2 separate regions of the Homo sapiens genome follow, and region 1 is linked to region 2. Evidence: fine-mapped expression QTL. A gene starts in region 2. The other region holds a variant in brackets. All regions are shown on one strand. Distances are from middle to middle. Region 1 overlaps STAT4 (signal transducer and activator of transcription 4). Region 2 holds the start of STAT4 (signal transducer and activator of transcription 4).

Region 1 (2,806 bases), 71 kb after region 2:
AAGGATCTAGAACCAGAAATACCACTTGACGCAGCAATCCCATTACTGGGTATATACCCAAAGGATTATAAATCATTCTACTATAAAGACACATGCACACATATGTTTATTTTGGCACTGTTCACAATAGCAAAGACTTGGAACCAACCCAGATGCTCATCAATGATAGACTCGATAAAGAAAATTTGGCACATATACACCATGGAATACTATGCAGCCATAAAAAAGGATGAGTTCATGTCCTTTGCAGGGACATGGATGAAGCTGGAAGCCATCGTTCTCAGCAAACTAACACAAGAACAGAAAACCAAACACAGCATGTTCTCACTCATAAGTGGGAGTTGAACAATGAGAATATATGGACACAGGTAGGGGAACATCACACACCAGGGCCTGTCAGGGGATGGGGGGCTAGGGAAGGGATAGCATTAGGAGAAATACCTAATTTGATGACAGGTTGATGAGTGCAGCAAACCATCATGGCACATGTATACCTATGTAACAAACCTGCACATGTATCCCAGAACTTAAAGTATAACAAAAAAAAATTTTAAAGAACTTTTTCAAAGGTATTATTAAGAGTGAAACACGATAGTGGATGGATAATGACTGTGGTGACAGACGACTGATTAGAAGTCTTCTGGAATAGACATCTGAGAATCTACCATATATTCTGGTTCTCAATGATTCCATGGACATCTGCCTGAAAAGTTAAATACGAATCTCATCTATTAGTGATGTGGTTGTTTATCATGATGGTATGACTAGACTATTACAACTCTTTAATGTTTCAGTCAACAAACCATTTAACCATATGTAGAAAAAATATGAGTCCTGGTTCTTGTCTGAAACCTTCTACTGAGAAATTTTGGAGAGATCAAGAAAGTGCCAGCATCAAAACTTACAAAATGAAGACAATAATTGTGCACACTCTACAGAAATATGCATTGCTGTCATGCTTGATGGCCCAGAAGACATTATTTTATGGAAAAATATGAGTGCCAATAAATCTAAGTTTAAAGGAGATTCAGAAAAATTGAACTCTAAAGTGAAGTAGTTTTAGGAAGACATTAGCCAATTTATTACACATATACTTCCCTTTTAATATATGTACACAATACTGATATATTAGTAAATATATATATCTATGTTGAAATAAATCAAGAGTTTTACCAATAAAGAAAAAATAAAAATTCTAAGTGATAAAAAGCATTGTGGTATACTTTGTATTTTTGTTTCAAGGCAAAAAGCATTACTAGAGATAAAGGTCAGTGCATGGTAATAAAAGATTTCATTGACCACTAATATATAAAAGTCTAAATGTGTATGACAGTAGCACAAGAAGAAAAATTCACAGAGTAGATTTTAACTTACCTTTTTCAATGACTGCAAAAATCTATCAGGCAAAGAAAAATCAGCAAGGATGCAGAAATTTGAACAAAACAATTAA[C/T]AAACATGGTTTAATAAACCTGTATGAAACATTTGTACCCATCAACTGCAAAATACATATTTGTTGCAAGCTCACATGAAACATTTACAAGATATTAATATGCTGGGTCATAAAACAAGTCTCAACAAATTTAAAATGATTGAAGTCATTCAGAGAATGTATTCTGATTAAAATTAAATTATTCTAAAAATCTGTAAAAAAAAGATAAATAGAAAATCCCTATGTATAGAAATTAACAAATACATTTTTAAATAAGTCACCTTAGGACAAAGATGAAATCCTGATGGAAGTTAGATGATTAAAAAGGAGGAAAATTCTATCAATATCCACATGATATATGATTTGTATATGCAGAAAATTCCAAAGAATATACAGATATAATTTTAGAATTAATAAGAGATATTACAAAAGCATTAGAATCAGAGTTTAGCAAGGTTGCTGGATTCAAAATCAATATACAAAAATTAATTATATTTCTATATAACAGCAAAAACAATGAGGAAAAAGATATTTATTCTAGTATCAAAAAATACCATCTACAGAAATAAACCCAGTGAAACACATATAAGATTATAATGTTTAATAGAGAAACATTAAAGAAGACATAAATAAATAGATTAGAACACAAGTATAAAGATGCCAAGTCTCCCTAAATTTTACCTAAAGATTTAGTGTCATTCAAATTCTCAACCAGGGTGTGCATATGTGTGTGTGCGTGACTTGACAAGTTGATTCTAAAATGTATATAGAAATATAAAGAAGACCTATTCTACTTGACATCAAGACTTACTATAAAGCTGTAGTAAAAAACACAAAAAGATTATCTATTGATGAAGCAGAGAGAGAACCATAAGATGGAATGGAGTCCAGAAACAAGCCCACCCACAAAGGAACACTTGATTTATGACAGAGCTGGCCCAGCAGAGCAGTGGTAAAAGAATAAGATGTTCAGTAAATGTTATTGGAATTTGGTAGACATGTGGAAAAAAATGAAAGAAAACTCTCATTATTAACAAGCTCCAAGTTAATTACAATCAATGGTGCAAAACCACAAAGAAAAATCTCCATGCCTGCAGCTTACAGAAAGATTTCTTAAATCATAAGAAGCATAAAGTTTAATAAATGATTTATTAAAATTTAAAACCTCTTCATTGACACTAGAAGATAGGAAAAAGATAAGCCATAGAGTAGAAGGTATTTGCAATAAATTTGCATGAGAAACTGATACACTACAGAAAATGAGCAGTTTCTCTTTTTCTGGCATGCTGCTTCCTTCCTCCCACTAACACACACTTAAGGGTTTGTTTTATTGTTATTTTGAGGTTCACGTACTTAGTAACTGCTGAAAGGTAAATA
Region 2 (2,806 bases):
CCTGGATAGGTTGGGACCAAACTGTACAGAACTTAAACTGCCAAGAATTTGGATTTTTTTCCTATAGGCAGTGACAGCTTCTCCAGAAGAAAATCAGACTTTGCTTAGTAGCTTATGGAATAGCCTGAAATTGGCACTTTCTTATGTAGGGTCAGAGCAGCATAAGCTCCTGGAAACTGCCTGCTCAACAAGCAGTGGGGACCAGGCCTACCTAACCAGGAAATTTACAGTGATATGGAAAGTGTGACTTTGGATTGATTGACCTATTTGGGGGTGGGTGGTAAGTTTAAGCACATGATAATGTCACCTGGGAGAGAAGAATCCAGAGGGTGTACCTGTGTGAAACCCGTCAGGGAAGAGGGAGGCAGGCCTTTCACCTTGGTATATTGCTCTAAGCATGTGTATAACCAAATTGAGTGACACTTTCTACCTTTCTTTCAGTCTGTCTGTCTGTCTTTATTTTTGTCTTTGTTTTACTATTTTTACTTTCTTAAACATTTTTATTGATTTTTTAATATACGGTGGGATTTTACTGTGTTGCCTGGGCTGGTCTCAAACTCCTGGGCTCAAGGAGTCCTTCCACTTCAGCCTCCCAAAGTGCTAGGATTACAGGTGTGAGCCACACGCCTGGACTTCTCTTTATTTTATTGAACCCCTACTGTGAATCAAGGGGTTAAGAGCTAACTACAAGGAGATGAAATGAAAAGACCACTGAAGTGGGAAGGGAAACACCTGGGCTATTATCGGGCTCCGTGGCTAACTTATTGAGTCCTCTTGGTCACCTCACTGGGTCTCTTCAGATATGAAAGAGGATTTAGCATTAGATGGGACCAAGACTTCCTCCAACTCTGTGATTCTAGAACAGGCTGATGTCACAAAGGGAGAAGAACGCACCGTAGCAACCAGGGGCAAGGCTACTCAAGGAGAGTAGGAGGAGGCTAGGTCAGGAAGGGCAAGCACTGGTGGCCTACCCAGGACTTGGCCCAACCCTCTGGGTCAGGTCACCCTCGTCGGAGTGAGCGGACCCCGCTGGAATTGGAGCCCAGTAAGGTCTATGAGTTTGGTGTTTTGATCCTGGCTACCCATCCCTTCCATCCCAGGGGTGGTTCACCAGGCTGAGTGGAGCCTTATACTAGGGAGAGAGGAAGCTGAAGAACTGGGCTCCAGGTAAGTAACTCTGCAGAGGATCTCAGATTGTCTAAGGAAACCACTGAAGAAAATGTATGCCCCGCCCCTCCCCTTTTTCCTGGCACTGCTGAGCCACCTGCAGTTGCGAGAGCCGCTGGGAGGGATAAGAGGGAAGAGGACGCCCGGTGAAGGGGCTCCAGCCTGGCAGTTTCTGCGTGTTAGCATTTCTAGAATAGAGTGGGTGGGAACTGACCCAAGTAAAGTCCCAGAGACTCGAACACTGACGCACAGGAAAGCCTCAAGTGGGAGGAGAAATGCAAATCCCCTACTGATGATGGCGTCAGCGGCTTTCTCCTAGGGACTGTGAGGGGCGCTTCTGACTTTGGACTTGAGCACTGCCTGGGACCTGTGCTGAGAGAGCGCTAGGTAAGTGGCCAGACCACACCTTCTGGCTGCCTCTTGTAAGGAGGACATGCTTATTATGCAGGATACTCTGAAGCTTTGCTTTCCCTTGGCGTTTTGACAATTGCTTCATTTTAACCTTCCTGAGGAGGCTTATTATAGAAGGAAGCGCCCGACTCCACGACCCACAGATGCGCCCTGGCACGGGTTCTCCGCGGAAACCGCTCCGCAGGCCCGCGCCACGGTGCCCGGGCGAATCTCCCTGCGGGGGCCAGGGGAGCTGCGGCGGCTGCGGAGGTGTGTCCTCGCGGAGGCTGAAAGTGAGCCCCTCTTCACTTTCTTAGCCAGCTTCTCTAGAGCTGTGATGTCTGACTTTAGATTAGCGTACCTGGATTTCAGAAAAAAGCTTGCAGCTACGGCAGCCGGTGACTGTGGCTTTGATGGGCGCGAGTGACATTTTAGGGCAGGTCATCTCCTTTTGCAAGCTACAGGCCACAGAGCCAAAGCGGCACCACCAGCTCACAGACGGTGGGACAAAATGCCCCTTTAGTGGGATCTTCTAGGAAATGCACGCAAAAAGGACAGACAGGCACTGAGTTTTCAGAAGCAACGTCACAGTTTTCATGAGAAAGAAGTAGCCCCTAGAGAGTGAAAGCAAAGAAACCTGCTGAAGGATGTCTAAAGGCGTTCCCAGAGGCTGCAATAGAAAATGTCCTAGGACTATGTATTCCTTCTTCTTCCTTTTTTCAGCTTTGAATTCAGCTCTCCGAAAGACTCAGATCTTAGTAGTGATTTTTTTCGGTGTTTATTTTTATTTTTTTTAATTTTCCTTTTATTTTCATTTGACACACAATTGTAAATATTTATGGAATATACAGTGATATTTCAATAAATATGAACAATGTGTTATGATCAAAGGATATTCAGCATATCCATCACCTCAAACATTTATCATTACTTTGTGTTGTGAACATTCAAAATCCTCTTAGCTTTTTGAAAATATACACTAAGTTATTGTTAACCATATTCATCCTAGTGTTACAGCACTAGAACTTATTCCTCCCATCTACCTGTAAGTTTTAGTTAGAAAATAGATTTTTCATCCAAATCATAGCGGGGGTTTAACAATAGTATGATGAAAAACTGTAATGCTATTTTCAACTCATGTTCTCTGTTGTCATTAACTAAAATAAATTGATAGATAGGACAATGTTGATAGTAGCATGAGAACAAATGTTCCAATTTTGTGTGGAATATATACACATCCGATGGAATA

The links. PIP is the estimated chance that this variant, and not a neighbour inherited with it, causes the effect.
Region 1: its variant is the best candidate, but not a certain one, in a credible set for the expression of STAT4 in whole blood (TOPMed, PIP 0.68).

Annotation. Positions count from the first base shown.
Region 1 is chr2:191,078,598-191,081,403 of GRCh38, reverse strand. The region is part of intron 3 of STAT4 (signal transducer and activator of transcription 4); the gene reads left to right. Among named protein-coding and RNA genes, the nearest start is that of STAT4-AS1, 58 kb to the right of the region's middle. The variant C/T (reference allele first, on the strand shown) is at 1,451.
Region 2 is chr2:191,149,695-191,152,500 of GRCh38, reverse strand. It overlaps STAT4 (signal transducer and activator of transcription 4), which reads left to right and starts at 1,507. Exons shown (of 24, transcript NM_003151.4): 1 at 1,507-1,554. RefSeq lists enhancers at 1,088-1,167, 1,298-1,347 and a silencer at 1,818-1,867.